2 separate regions of the Homo sapiens genome follow, and region 2 is linked to region 1. The links come from fine-mapping of genetic effects on gene expression. Tissue or cell type: cerebellum. Region 1 holds a variant in brackets; the other region holds the start of a gene. All regions are shown on one strand. Distances are between the middles of the regions.

Region 1 (8,265 bases):
CACAGCCAATAAATATGAAAGCTGGATCTCAAGCCCAGGAATATGTGACCCAAAACCTGTGTTTTTTCTGTAGCCTCTGCCTACCATCCTCATGTTTTCCAGTTACAGGAATCAGAAACTGTGAGCTACCACCTTAAGAGTGACTCACAAGTCTAGTCCCCTACTCTTATCTTGGAAATTTATGTTATTAAAATAAAATACAGCCAAGAAAAATAAGGCTGTTTTTTTTTGAATCATTAAGGAAAGAAACAAAAACCTTTATAAAATTGACCAGAACATGCTAATTAATTCTCCTCTCCCAGTACTTATCACTCTGTATTATCATTTTCTGCATAACATATCCTTCTTTCCCACTAGAAACTGAGTTTCTCTGGTTCAGGATATAGATCTTATTTATCTCTGTGTCTAGCCACCACCACCATAATCACATTGACAAGTGACCCGTGGTGGATGCCAATAGCTTACAAGAAATGTCTTTACAAACGTCACTATCTGTATTTACTAAGAAATATGATAGAGGACACTGTTTATCATATTCCTCAGTATTTCTTATATGACACCCTGTAAGATAAATTTCTTTCAAACTGAAGTGCCAGAAATTTTTTTCTGTGCTTCAGAAATTAGTATGCTTTCTCCTTATGGGCAATATGAATTATATACATGAAACAGAATTTCTTATTATCGCTTTGGTTTCCAGGAAGTCAGGAACCAAATTTGTGGCTCAACTTTATATTTCTGCATATCCTGAAAATTTCTGCTCCAAATGTCCATTGATCTTAGCCTTATATTCTAATTTTTATTTTCTTATATTTATTTTCATTTAAATGTATGTAATCTTGTAGGTTATCTCAAATATTTTGTGAAACAAAGTAAATTATAAATAAATCAACCATGCTTAGCTGTATTAATTAATAACACATTAGCTTCTCTAACAGATAACTCCTTGTATTAGTCCCTTTTCATGCTGCTGATAAAGACATATCTGAGACTGGGCAATTTACAAAAGAAAGAGGTTCAATGGACTTACAGTTCAATGTGGCTAGGAAGGCCTCACAATCATTGTGGAAGGCAAAAGGCACTTCTTACGTGGCGGTGGCAAGAGAGTGAATGAGAATCAAGTGAAAAGAGTTTCCCCTTATAACACCATCAGATCTCATAAGACTTATTCACTACTATGAGAATAGTATAGGAGAAAGTGCCCCCATGATTCAATTATCTCCCATTGGGTCCCTCCCATAACACTTGGAAATTATGGGAGCTACAATTCAAGATGAGATTTGGGTGGGGATGCAGCCAAACCATATCATTCTGCCCCTGGCCCCTCCGAAATCTCATGTCCTCACATTTCAAAACCAATCATGCCTTCCTAACAGTTCCCCAAAATCTTAACTAATTTCAGCATTAACTCAAAAGTCCACAGTCCAAAGTCTTATCTGAAAAAAGGCAAGTCCCTTCTGCCTATAAGCCTGTAAAATCAAAAGCAAGTTAGTTACCTCCTAGATACAATGGGGGTACAAGCATTAGGTAAATACAGCCATTCCAAATGGGAGAAATTGGCCAAAACAAAGAGGCTACAGGCCGCATGCACATCTGAAACCCAATGGGGCAGTCAAATCTTAAAGTTCCAAAATGATTTCCTTTGACTCCACGTTTCACATCTGAGTCACATATTGCAAGAGGTGGTTTCGCATGGTCTTGGGCAGCTCCACTCCTGTGGCTTTGCAGGGTACAACCTCATTCCTGGCTGCTTTCACAGGCTGGGGTTGAGTGTCTGTGGCTTTTCCAGGTGCACAGTGCAACCTGTTGGTGGAACTACCATTGTGGGGTCTGAAGGATGGTAGCCCTCTCCTCACAGCTCCACTAGGCAGTGCTCCAGTTGTGACTCTGTGTGTGGGCTCCAGCCCCACATTTCCCTTCTGCACTGCCCTAGCCAAGGTTCTCCATGATGGCCCCACCCCTGCAGCAAACTTCTGCTTGGGCATCCAGGCATTTCAATACATCCTCTGAAATCTTGATGGAGGTTCCCAAACCCCAATTCTTGACTTCTGTGCACTCGCAGGCTCAACACCATGTGGAAGCTACCAAGGCTTGGGGCTTACACCCTCTGAAGCTACAGCCTGAGCTCTACATTGACCCATTTTGGCCATGGCTGGAGCAGCTGGGACACAGAGAACCAAGTCCCTAGGCTGCACACAGCACAGGGATTCTAGGCCCAGACCACAAAACCATTTTATGCTCTTAGGCCTCCAGGGCTGTGATGGGAAGGGCTGCATGAAGAACCCTCTGACATGCCCTGGAGACATTTTCCCCATTGTCTTGGGGATTAACACTGGGCTCCTCATTACTTCTGCAAATATCTGCAGCCACTTTGAATTTCTCCTAAGAAGATGGGATTTTCTTTTTTATCACATTGTCAGCCTGCAAATTTTCCAAACTTTTATGCTGTCCTTCCCTTATGAAACTGAATGCCTTTAACAGCACCGAAGTCATGTCTTGAATGCTTTGCTGCTTAGAATTTTTTTTCTGCCAGATAACCTAAATCATCTCTCTCAAGTTCAAAGTTCCACAAATCTCTAGGGCAGGGGCAAAATGCTGCCAGTCTCTTTGATAAGACATAACAAGAGTCACCTTTGCTCCAGTTCCCAACAAGTTCCTCATATCCATCTGAGACCATCTGAGCCTGGATTTCATTGTCCATATCTTTATCAGCATTTTGGTCAAAGCCATTCAATAAGTCTCTAGAGAGTTCCAAATTTTCCCACATTTTCCTGTCATCTTCTGAGCCCTACAAATTGTTCCAACCTCTGTCTGTTACCCAGTTCCAAAGTCGCTTCCACATTTTTGGGTATCTTTTTAGCAGCACCCCACTCTACTGGTACCAATTTACTGTATAGTCCATTTTCATGTTGCTGATAAAGACATACCCGAGACTGGGAAGATAAAGACGTTTAATGGACTTACAGTTCCATGTGGCTGGGGAGGCCTCACAATCATGGCAGAAGGCAAGGAGGAGCAAGTCCCTTATATGGATGGTGTCAGGCAAAGAGAGAGGGCTTGTGCAGGGGAACTCCTATTTATAAAACCATCGGATCTTATGAGACTTACCCACTATCACAAGTAGCATAATAAAGACATGCCCCCATGATTAAATTACCTCCCACTGGGTCCCTCCCATGACATGTGGGAATTGTTGGAGTTACAATTCAAGATGAGATTTGGGTGGGGACACAGCCAAACCATATCACCCCTCAAATCTTAACACAATAGAGTTATATTTCTCACACATTAATTTCCTTGGCTAGTAGCCTTTCACATGATTATGTAGGGACCCAGGGTTCTTCTTCCAGGGTCTTGGAGACAGTCACATTCCACTGGTATATGGAGACAAGACTACAGAAAGATATCTCTTCATGTTTCACTGTGAAGAAACTAGACACTAGGCTCCACCTATGCCTGATATTCAGGGAAATCTAGATCCTAGGTGGACAGCAGCCTCCTAGCACCCAGCTTTACTCTATGGAAGGGGAACACAAATCTTTGTTGATGACCTAATTAGCCCTGTTACCTACTTGAAAGATATTCCAAAATATTGTTGCATGATTTAAAGGGATGCTCATACAGCCACAACCTCCTTATGTGGCAACAGAGTCATTTTGTATATAACCTGCCCATGGACCTTGCATTAATATTATTTAATCAATATGTATAATGCTTACATGGCAGTACCTATGAGTTGATTTTCCTGCATAAAACATATTCAAGTTAAGTGTCTTGTATGACCTCAAACTGCCAATTGAAGTTTCTTGGTCATGGTGTATAAGCCAACAGAAGGTGTTTGTTAATGACTGGCCTCCAGTTGCTTAATTCAGAACTGTGGCCAGTAGGCTGAGCAGATGGCTGAAGAGGTTTGGGCTACATGGGCCATGAACACAGTTGTCAGTGTGGTAGCAGGAGCTCTACAGAAAGTATCTTGATTCCTTCTAATTCTGCAAAAAACAATGAGGCAGAGGGCCCGAGGCTGATCGCCAGATTTAGGCCAAGGAACGTCAAATTA[T/G]GACATGAGGAGGACCAAGAGTCCTTGAGTTTTAGTCTCCAGGGCTGCAATGACTTAACAGCAAAGTTAATTCCCCAAAATGTCAGAACTGTATATTTCTGGTCAGATGCCAAATATACACAGCTATAGGCTTGCTTAACTGCACCATCGGGATCTACAGTATTCCCTAATGTCTCTTCAAACACAGCCCTCTCCTTACATTAGGTCTTACTTCTTAAAAATTATGCTGGTTTACAGGAAAAGACTACCAAAAGGAGCCCATTCTACTTCGGTTCCTTCAATATTCCCTTAGAATATTATCTTGCCCAAACACACAGGAAGTAGAAGAATGGCCATACATCCCAGTTTCCTCACAACAGTCCTGGTTAATGCCTGTGGACCAGTATAAGTGTTAATAATACTCCCTTTCAATCTCAATGTATCTTGCTTTGCTCAGGAAACTATTATCAGTTGTGAATCCATGACTAGAACTTAGTTTGTCTGACTCATGGCATAGTGCTCTTTCCACAATATAAAGTTATTTCTAATTATAACCAAACATCAGCATTAAGGGAAGTAGGTGTGCGGTGGGCACAACACTTCCTCCCTCCTTCTAGGTTACTAGACATTTATAGAAGTGAATTAGTCAGAGTAGAATGGAGACATGATTCTGCCTTTCCAAGAATTGGGATAAAGTAAGCAAATCTGGAAGGCTGTCCCTTCTTTAACCTCAGGGTAAGCTCCAACATTCATCCTAAGTTTGAAAATTATGTCAATTCAATTCACAACTAAATTGAAAGAAAATCCAGAGGTTTTCCCCAAACTCATGAATCCACTGCTGCTATTCAACCTAGGCCATTTTCTGCAGAGCTACATAACTGCTAGCCTCACACCATTTCTATCATCTATCAAGAAGGTCCATTTGCCAGGCATGGTGGCTCACACCTCTAACCCCAGCACTTTGGGAGGCTGAGGCGGGCGGATCATGAAGTCAGGAGTTCGAGACCAGCCTGACCAACATGGTGACACCTCATCTCTACTAAAAATACAAAAATTAGCCGGGCATGGTGGTGTGCGCCTGTAATCCCACCTACTCAGGAGGCTGAGGCAGGAAAATCACTTGAACCTGGGAGGTGGAGGTTGCAGTGAGCTGAGATTGTGTCACTGCACTCCAGCCTGGGCAACAGAGAGAGATTCCATCTCAAAAAAAAAAAAAAACAAAAAAACAAGGTCCATTAGTGACACAGTTTCCTTAGTGTTCCCCCCTTAACATTTTATAAAGCCAAAGCATGGCATATATTTTCCCTAAACAGTTTGTCACAGCAGATAATTTAATGTCAATTATTAACCAGGTTGTTTGGTGCCATATGCAAGAAGGAACTCAGCTAACGATCTGAGAGCAAAGATCACAACCAGACTATAGTGATCCAGAAGCTGAACCCAGGCAGGAACAGGGCAAATAAAAGAAATGTGCTCTACCTATTAACATGTTTTCCTGTTATTTCTTTATACTTGTCGCTGCTTAAATGTCGCAGTGCTCAATTCCGATGTCCACCTGTGTACCTGTCAGGAGAAAGTGGCTCCCCAAGAAGCAGAGAGGGAGACCATCTTAAACAAGTGGCAATAAAACGCCACTTCACTCTTCCTAGCCAGGATAGGCCTCTGTCTGAAGGAAATAGCAGCTTGTGGGCCTTTTATGAAAAGTACTTTTGTTCCAGTAGTTTTTCAAGGACAAAAATGTATCTTCACACTTTTGTCATTATATTTATGAACTGTAAATCCTCATTTTATGGAAACACTCCAGGATTTCAAACTCCTAAATCAACCTGGTAAATCTCCAGCCTCAGGGGTTCAATTTAAGGAGAACCTCTTCAAAAATACTGACATTTTATAGGGAACTGCAGGAAAAACAAACAATAAGAGTTTTCAACATACATCTTTTTTTTGGTAACCCTAAAGGCTTGTCATGGGAGACAGCTAACATGTAAGAAGAATAAAGACAGCTGCTGAGAATGCATTTTCTGAGCCGCAGGTCAACATGACTTAAACAATAACAGTGAGATGGTCTCTCCAGAAATTTGGTCTGGGGCCCTGAACAAGCCACCATTGTTTCCTTAAAGGAATATTTACTTTTATATCAGGATATGGATGATGTTAGATATACAAGCAAACTTTTAAGTGTGAGAAAAATGACTCTAGAAAATCTATTTGCAATTGCAAAACACTTTATAAATATTGTAGGCTTGAGGTTTTGCCTTCACTCTTATAATATTCCCCGTTATTGGCTGGACACAGTCCTGCCATAGCGGTTGGTATCTCCATGAACTGTCTGCCAACTTCTACTACTGAGAGCATTTCAATACACCCAGTCTCACCAATGTTTAGCCAGCTGGTAGCCCACATCAGCCATCCAAATATTTCATTGTTGGATGAAATAATTCCACAGGCAACCACAGGTCCTAGGCATGTGAATTTTATGAGGGCTTATTCCACAAACTAGGGCAAAACAGAACACAGAGCAGTTTGCCCCGAGATGCTGAGTGAGACTCACTGTCAATAATTTCTACCCATTCGCAGAAAATATTTTTAAAAATTATGGTCTTCATGAAATTTTGAATTGTAGAAGTGTGAAGAAATGCTTAGGGTCCTGAAAGGCAATATAAACTGTGTGTTTTCTCTGTTAATGGGAAGTTGGTGAAGTGCTTAACACAAGCGGCGGAAAGTCTTCTAATCCTCTTAATAGAAGGGACACAGAAGCCATATAGTGAAAAATGTATTCTTTTTCTCTCCAATGTATAATGGTGGCTGTGCCAAGCAATAATGTTCTATTTCTGAAAGTCTATAGCAAGCTTATTTAATGGCATTCTTAGCAGGGCGCCCTATTCATACCTATGTGCCATTTTCTGTGCTCTTGAATGAAAGACTTCCCTTTCATATGCCACTGTGGAAACACATCATTTCCCGCAGCTTGCACTTCTCCAGGTTGTCATAACTGCTTTTGAGAACGTCTTCAACAGCAACTAGTGACCCAGCACTGGAAAAAAAAATTCCAGGGCTGTTCTTAGGTCTACTTAGTGAGAGAGTTTTAATGTGTTCAATGGTGTCACCAACACATCGAGTCACCCACTTTTCTCAATCTTTTTGGAAAGGGAATAAAGAAGGTTATAGGGAAACTGTGCTCAGACTCAGCAAATTCAGAATCAGAAATTGCACAGACAACATAGAATGAAATATAGTACTGGTGTCAGTTAGAAAGGAAGCATTCATAGCAAGATTTCTCAATAAAATTGGATTTGGAGAATCAGTGAGGTGTGGCTACATAGAGAAACTCAAGCCAAAATTGTGCTATTAGAAACTTTGTTTATCTTTGCCTCTACTGACTTGTGAAATGGGGGGGCACCCCCAGCAAGGTTAACCATGACCCATGACCACCCAGGGTGATGCCTTAGATTTGTGATGTTATATCAATGTGGATTTATACTGTTCTCTGACCTTTTTAGAGACAAAAAGCAACACTTTTTGACTCTAAAAAAGTGTGTTGTTCGTGCTGATCTTGAGCTCCTGGCCTCAAGAGATCTTCCTGTGTCAGCATCTTGAGTAGCTGAGATTCAAGCACAAACCACAAACCACTGCAACCCTGCTCGTTGAGTTTTATGAGTTCTTTGTGTATTTGGATAACAGTCCTTTGTAAGATGTGTCTTTTATAAATATTTTTCTCCCAGTCTGTGGCTTGTCTTCTCAGCCACTTGACATCGTCTTTCACAGATAAACTTTTAATTTTAATGAAGTCTACCTTATTAATTATTTCTTTCATCAATCATGCCTTTGATGTTGTATATAAAATGTCATTGCCATACTCAAGGTCATCTAGGTTTTTTCCTATGCTGTCCTCTAGGAATTTTCATCTTGCATTTTACATTTAGGTCTATGAAACATTTCGAGTTACTTTTTGTGAAAGGCATCAGCTGTGTATAGATTTTTTTTGTATGTAGATGTCCAGTTGTTCCAGCGCCCATTTGTTGAAAAAAATTGTCTTCGTTCCATTGTTTTGCCTTTGCTCCTTTGTCAAAGATTAGTTAACTGTGTTTAAAAGGGACTGTTTCTGGGCCCTTTATTCTGTTCCATTAGTTTCTTTGTCTATTCTTTGGTGGATACCATACCATCTTGATTATCATAGCTTTATAGTAAGTCTTGAAGTCAGTCAGTGTCAGTCCGCTAATTTTGTTCTTCTT
Region 2 (8,000 bases), 850 kb before region 1:
AACTCTTTATGACAGTCTGGAACGAAATTAATCTGTTAATTGACTAAGAATGGGCTTTAGAGTGACCTGAATGTATTTAAAAAGTCAACAAATGGAATACGGTATAAAGTCTCATTTTTCTGACAAAAAGTTTGCTTGGAGTAAATTTTAACCTCTCCCCTGCCTCAAAACAAAAGCACGATGCCCCTCCTACCACTCCCAAGAAGCAAGCAAAAATAAAATAAAATAAAATAAAACTTAAATAGCCTTTTAATAAGAGTGTTCAGCGCTGTCTGGATGGAACTCGGGTCAGCTCCAGAAGCAGCCGGCCCCGAATCCTGGGGGCGAGGCCACTCGGCTCTCTCGGTTAAGCTGGGCCCTGCCTTCCCCGCCCCGCCCCCATTGGCCTCGGTGGGTGGGGGCCTCGGCTGCGCCGGCCGCCTGTGCGGCTGTACTGCAGTCTCTGAGCCCAGGAAGTCACACCCGTCTCGGCTGGGAGCCGAAGCGCCAACCCACGTGGCGGCTGGCTAACCCAGCCGCTGCGGGGAGCGCCCGTTGCGGGTCCTCCCTTGGCGCGAGGTGAGCGAGTGGGGGCGGGCCCCAGACCCAGCCCCTTTGGGCGGGGCTGGACCACCTCCGCTTGTCTAGTTCTTTCCCACCCTTCCATCCCGGCACGCCTCTGCAGTCACATTTGTTGCCGCTGGGAAAGGGAAAAGAGTATCCTAAAACGAGTCTCGAAATTCAGACCCAAACCCCGAAACGAACCCTTCCGGTCCGTTCCTGGCTGTTTGAATGCCATCTGCCCCATCTCCGTTCCTTTCTCCTTTTCCTCCCCTCCACGGTCCTCTTTCCTTCCACTTCCCTTCCTTCCCTTTCTTTTTTCCTCCCACTGCCCGCCTTCTCTCCACTTTCCCGTCCGACGCCCGCCCTGAAGTTGAGGAAGTTTAAGTTTTGGATTAGGAGCCCTTCTTTTGCAATATCCTGGGGCGGGGCCCTAGCGTTGGGTTCAAGTGGTCATGGGTTTTGAGAGCACGGTATGTGTATTATCTTTCTTAAAGACGCCCAGGGTGGCGCGTCTAGACCTCCGAAACCTGGCTCCACCCTGGCCATGTGCGTTCGTCCACTAAGCGGCGAACTGGACCCAGGGCGCCGCGTGCGTTCCAGCCGACTCGCGAGAAGGCATCTCTGCACTTTGCACAGACCAAGACCTTTTTTCAGGGTCCTCCAAACTCCTAGATGTACGCCGCAGATTGTGGAGTGCAAAATGAATGACTTAAGGGAAAACTAGGGCCTTCCATCCTTGAACACAAGGTTGTGAAAGATGCTCGCTTGGTCTGGGGGGCTTGTTTTTCTCCGCCTGTGCGGGACTTCTCCATCAGGGGGCGCCCACACCCGCCGCAAAACTCCCAATTCCTAGACATCTAGGTTCTGCAAGTCTTGTGAGCTGAACTGGGGGCAGATCCGAAGGAGCGCACCGCCTCCCTCGCTCCTCCCTCCCTGCTGCCTTGGAGCACGGGAAAGGCAGGGATTTCACACTAGCCATTCATTTGTCAGCTGTGGGGGAGGGGACGCAGAAGCTAGAGAGAGAGAACAGAGGCTGGGAGAGGGGAAGGGAGGCAGAGAAGATGGAGACAGAGGGAGACACAAAGATGAGGAACGCGACCCAGAGAGACTCTGCCGCGGGTGTGCGCGCGGCAGGACAACTCTCCAGGCGCCGTGTAGATTTCTCCCCCTTCCCGCAGCATCTCCCAGGGACATGCAGGACTTGCCGAGACGCAGTTGGATTGGAGAGCAAATAGTTTAGGCTATGACACTATTTTTCTACCCCGCTCTCCTCTGCCTAACACCCAGACCGCTCCACGCCCAGTGACACAGACCGCGGGCCAGAACAACCCGGATGCCCTAGGTCTGCACGCACCAGGGATGTCGCCCTACAGCGCCCACGCCTCTGCAGGACGGTGGGGCGCTCCAGCCGAGGACGTCCCCCGGGGCTCCCGGCACACGCGCGCGCCGCTGCCGCTAGACCTGCCAGTAAAGTTGCTCAACTAGAGCGGAGAACTAGGAGAGGGTGGGGAATATGTAAGGAAACGGAGGACTCCTGTAGTCTGGGCGAGAGGACTGACCCAGAGGCCCCTGATTCGGGTCCCCGAGCCACCTTTGTCTGCAGTGCGCTCTGGGTGCCGGTTTGCTTGTTGAGATGGGAGCGACAGACCCTATTTCACTCTTCAGGGTGAGAAAAATTGTTGCACATCCCTGCCGATTCAGAACAGGCTTTTCCCGCCCAGGGGCCTCCCAGACCTCCGCGGGGCTCCAACAACCCCACCCCCCATCCTCTGCTCCTTCCCTGCTGGCCCCTTCGCACCGCGTGCAGGACAAAAGAACCCAGGGGCGCCGGGAGAGAACCGTGACAGTCCCCAAGTCGTCAAAGAGACACGGCGGGGATCCTGCACCTCCCCCGGCCGGACCTCCTCCCAGACTGCCTGCGGTCTGAAGGGGTCAGGTCCGCGCAAGGTCCCAGGCTGCTTGGGCGCCGGGTCGCACTGTCAGGAGCTGCCCGGGAGTGGCTTTCCAGGAACACCAGGCACTGACCACACACCAGGGGCTGGGAAACCAGGTGGCCTGCACCAAGGCGGCTTCGGGGACTTGTCTGTGGCAAGTCTTGGTAGTCCCCATTCAAACTTTTGCCTCGAGCGTGTTAAGAACAACAACAACAAAAAAATCAAAGTGCCAAAGGTCCCTCTCTTCTCTCCAGCTCAAGAACCCACCACTTTTCTATGATTTCTTTACAATTTATTCCCTCCCTTCCCCCAATTCCGTTAGTCATTTTACCCCCCACCCCACCCTGGGTTTCTTTTGTCTGAATCTTTTTCAACACCAAGGTCCCTCTGTATGCCTCTCCCCAAAAGCCCTTATGAAAGTTACCTGCATTTTTTAAGTGCCTACATTTTCTTAACTTCGCCTTACAGCTCTTTGCCTTAATTAAAGCCTTCTACCAATTGCTTCTTTTTTCTAAGCTCGCGGGTTTTTTTCTATAAGTTTTTTGTTTTTGTTTTTTAAGGGGGGAACAAAAGAAACGTGATTACCTTGGAAGGCGGCTTATTGCAGTTTGGGGGGAAAATTCACTGCAGCGCTGCGCGACTGGGTTCGGCGTTGCCCAGGCGGGTCACATAGGAAGCGTGGTGGCCCGGGGAAGGATGCGGAGGGTGCGGGACGGTGCTGGAAGATGCGGGAGGATGCGGGGCTGGCCGAAGATCTTGGTCCCAGCTCCTGTCCACAACACCTAATGTTCTCGGCTGTTGCGTCCGCACGCCTGGAGTTCTTCCCCAGAAAGGCTCGGGGCAGCTCGCCTGCAAGTTCAAATGCGGGTTGTGACACCCATCATCATTATATCACTGTACCGTCAGAGCCGAGGAGGAGACTCAGCGAGAAGAAGGAGGAGGGAGAGGAGGAGGGTTCATTCACAGGCTCCAAAAGCGCTCCGCAGCTTCAGCCACTCCTAAGAGTCCAGGCTTGGAAAGCAGGCGGAGGGGCGGAAAGGCAGCTCCCCGCGCCTGCGGTAGGGACCGCCTGCCTCCCTCCCCAGGCACTCCCACCTCTTGGCGTTTCTTCCTGACAAGAAGTACCAATCGGCTTGGGGACAGCAGCGCTCCCCATTCAGGGACTCACTCAGTAACATCGCTCTGCTCGCGGAAACCACTGCCCTCCCACTCCTTCCCCACCCCCATTTCCCCGCCCCCCGTGCAGCTAGTTCTGGGTTAGGGGAAAGGAGCCCCCAGGCTCTTAGGGGGCAGGCCAGCAATAGACAATTGAGTACGATCACTTCTTCTCGGGAGCACACAAAACTGTAAAATCAGCAAAGAACTTGGTTACAGCGTGTTTACGCGCCCACAGAGCTTGCCTGTCCCATCAAAGGGAAGTGTCAGGCTCAAGGCTCCTGCCAACCTGAAAGAGACACTGAGAAAACGAGATCCTTCGGGGACCTAGAGGGAAAGTGTAAGAATTCCCCACTGCACTCCCAGGGAACTGCCCAATGGGGAGCCCGGCTTCAAAAGACCCTGGTAATAAAAGGCTGGACAGGAAATTCCCCCAGGCAAATCCCTTGTCGGATTCAAAGAGAATACTTTTCCTCTGCCACAAATCTCTCCCCACATAAGTCTAGATTCTGCTTTCTTCGTTCTTCCTTTCCTTCAGTCTTTCCAAGTATCTCTGAGTAGAATATTTGATAATTTTCCTGAGTAACAGGGACTTCTTGGAAGTATCAATCACCTTTCATGCTTTCCGGAAATAAGACCATAATCTTTCATGCGTATATGCGATTTTTTTTCTTCAGTCAGGCCCACCCCACTGTGTAAACAGCATCAACACATGGAAGAGTCCCCTGCATTGTGTTACAAAAGATTTCCAATAGGACCTTACAGAGAAAAGGGTCAAACAGTTGACACAAAGGATTTCTGTCCCCTTAGAAAAGAGGGACTTTGGATTTTCCTTTTCTTTGAAGTCAAGTATGAGTTTATACAATAGGAACAAAATAAATCCAAGGTGCACATCAGTATAACACTAGGGATACTAGAATGGATGGCAAACTTTTCCTTCTACACAAATATGAAAGTATCCTCACAACTCTTCTCTCTGAAGCCTCTACTTAGAAAATTATATTAAACATAGGACCTCAAAACAGTAGTGATTAAAGATGAAAGCCAATTTTTCCTCTCAACTTCTTTGATTAGTTTGGTTTAAACTTATGCTTTAAAACTTTTAGTAACTTAGACTCCTGTACATGCGCATTTATAAGATTTCTTTTATATTTTGTAATTTGTAGGCATTCAGCATGGTCATTGATTTTAAGTGATAAACAGGTAGAAGACTTGTCAGGATAATTTCAGTTCTCACCATGTGCATCTTTCATTTCTTTTGTTATTTATCAGCCCTCTGCAGTAATATAACTGTCAGTTACATCATTTGGAAATCAATGTGTTTTTGCAGTGAATTATTTATTCTTAGTAAATTTATTGTACTACCATTCCAAACACTGAAATTTGATTTCATCAGATGTTTAGAATGATAGTCACAGAGCAGAATCAGACTTCAACCTTCATGTATAACATGTAAACAAACTAAGGTGCAGAAAGTTACTGTCCCAAAGTCACACAATTAATAGTCCAGTGGTCTTTTCAGTGCTAATCATAGCAACTTTAGATTCAAGATTGCTTGATTCAGGAATGGAGAGAAATAAAATAAAATGAATGTTCATTGAAATATATACTCCAGACATTAAGATAGACCTTTCTGTGAAACACTTCAAGATGTGGATTTGTATTCTCATTCTTAAATTTGAGTAAATCTAGTTGAGTTTCAAAGAGTTCAAGTAACCTGCCCAAGGCCATTTTGTAAGTGACAGATCTGCCAGTCTGAAAAGCTTATTATCTTTTACCCTTTTGTCCCTTTATGATACAGTTAAGTAAAACCTTTCAACAAAGGAGAACTAGATCAGAAACAAGCAACTAATAGCAGATTAATGCCCATTTTTAGGGAAATGTTAATAGTTAACATTCACTATAAATAATGCCATCTGTATATAATGGAACATGATTGAAAGTGATGGGTTAGATACTTTTTACATTCTGAGATGTTTTCATTTATGTTGCCAAATTTGATTCTCTAATCCTCCAAAATTTTTAGTTTCTTTTAATGCCAATAGACTTCACAACACTTGACCAAATACTTCTACAGGACAAAGGCACTTTCTCAGGGCTGACTTAAGGAATTAGAATATGCACAATGTTGAAAAGCTTTAAACTGCCTGTCTTTTCTCTTCTTTGACTTGTAACATTATTATTCAGAAAATTAAATACTTCTTCAGGCTATCAGATAACTAAAATGAAATTATACCCCATGGATATCTTCTTTCTATCTCTAGGGCAGACTTTCCCCTCTAGCTGTCTAAAATGGAGAATGGATAAAAAAGAAAAAGGAAAACATACCAGCTATATTTAGAATAGAGTCTACAGTTGTATTATTATTTCTATGTAACTGTTTTTAATGACTTTCCTTCATCAAGAGAAAGAAAATGAGAGAGCATTTATTTCTGATTCTCCAATGCCTGACAAAACTATCAGAAGTTTTTGAATGGGAAAATATATATTTTTCAGGTTTTATAACTAAAATTGTATTTATTTGTCCATTACACTCAAGTATGAATCAAACAGTAATTAAAATATTATTCTGTGAGTCCCCCTTTAAATCACATCCTTGTACTGGGGATATTCTTTGTGAAAACTCCAAGATCCCAGGTATAAATAAAGCAAGATCTTCATTCACAATGCTTGTGTCTAAAAGAAACCATAAGCCAGAAGCTATGTGCCTTGCTTCCTTGCTTTGATCTTGTCTTTGGGAATTTGGCTGAGCTCAGGGGCAGCAAGCCAATGACTTGGAGAGGAAAGGTGTAGATGGCAGATGTGTCTCCAGGGAATTTTATTATCTTCATCTAAACCTCCTTCTGAGGTTCTTTAGGATTACATTTCAGACTTCTCCTTTTTTATTGATCAGGTGAAGTGTTCTTAGACATGGCATCATCTATTGCTGCTCTAGGGATGACAAGATTCCAGTCCCATTCAAATTCAGAAAGAGCTTAGTTTCAACTCCTTGATCTGACTGGTCCTAGGCACAACTAAGCAAATTATCCTCACTGGATGATACAGTAATGCTACAGATTAAAAATGTACTTTTAACTTTCAAAGACCCTGGAAAAAGGAAGCCTATCCTCTAAGATTGTGTCATAATTTTTTTTTTAAATAAAACACTGCAAATTAGGGACAGACATTTCATCCAGCACTTTGAATTCTCTTTGGCTTTCTAGGAAAGGCAGAAATACAAGGTCTTTATTGCCTTCTTTTTATTCTTAAAAAAGAAATCTTGCAAAAGGCAAAGTGATGGTGGCAATCTCATTGTGCTTTAACCCGAAGTATATAAATTGCTCTGATAAATTAAACACAGACAAATTTCCTTAGAAAGCCATAAAACATTAGATTTTTCCCAGACATCAGATATTGAGTTTTTGCTCTCCAACCCCCAAATCAAAATGTTACAGTAAAATATTTGTTTTAATAAATTTTTTTTTCTCCTGTGCTGTAAATGTCCTGTTCATGGTTGAGCAGATTTCTCTAGAACTTAACTGAAAGACCATCTACATCACGACAGAACTATGCAAGCCAAAGCCAAGTTCCAACATGGAGTGATGGGAGAGGCCGGGCTGCCGAGAGGAGATGACTTCATTAGTGAGAAGAGAGGCTCTCTGAGCCGGTCCTCAAGGCAGCCAAATGGCTCAGCACATCTGCACTCACCCTGGGAGGCTGCCTGGAGCAGAGCATCAAAAACGCTATCTTTTTTATAAAGAAAAAGATGAAGGCATAAAGAACACAGTCCAACTAAATTGAATCAAAGATTGTATCACTCTTACTCCCTCCTTAGTCACTTTCTCAAAGTCTTTTTCTTCTCTCCCCACAGTCTGAAAAATATAGGTCATTTTTATAAAGCATTTGTCTGACTGAAGCAAGACAAACTGAAGAGTCTGGTTTCTGAACACAAGGAAGCGGTAGAGATCTTAGAATCAATGAGGCAGGGCGGAATACAATGCAGAAGGTTTCTTAAGAGGCAAAACTTTTGCAGTTGCTGTTTATTTTCAGTGACTACCCGTTTCCATTTATTTAATTAGACTACAGTGGGACCGAGACAAGGAGCATAATGAAAGCTGCTGCACTGATGGTGCAAAAAGACACATGGCATCATTAATGTCTCTGTGGTGAGCAAAGGTAGAACGCAAGACAGAAAACAAGGAAACCTCTGTGTTGTAAGAAAAGTGTTCAGCATGGGTATCAACCGGCATGTAGAAGCAGCAAGCATACATTCCATTTTTATTCTATTGACAAAAAGAATTGCAGGACTAATGCTTGCTCCTATTAAAATATGAGAAATCACATTTTAATCCTACAAATCAAAGGTCAAATATTTGTTGCAATAATTCC

Direction of the effects. Positions count from the first base shown, and alleles are read on the strand shown. Sizes are in standard deviations (SD) of each study's normalised expression.
For the expression in cerebellum of the gene that starts at base 3,342 in region 2, allele T in region 1 goes with a lower level than allele G (moderate effect, 0.49 SD a copy in GTEx).

Evidence for each region. PIP is the estimated chance that this variant, and not a neighbour inherited with it, causes the effect.
Region 2: it holds the start of VCAN, and the variant in region 1 is fine-mapped to the expression of VCAN in cerebellum (GTEx, PIP above 0.99).

The regions. Positions count from the first base shown.
Region 1 is chr5:82,620,558-82,628,822 of GRCh38, reverse strand. No RefSeq gene overlaps it. Among named protein-coding and RNA genes, the nearest start is that of MIR3977, 220 kb to the left of the region's middle. The variant T/G (reference allele first, on the strand shown) is at 4,055.
Region 2 is chr5:83,467,086-83,475,085 of GRCh38, reverse strand. It overlaps VCAN (versican), which reads right to left and starts at 3,342. Exons shown (of 15, transcript NM_004385.5): 1 at 3,063-3,342. RefSeq lists silencers at 269-488, 519-608 and an enhancer at 2,041-2,913.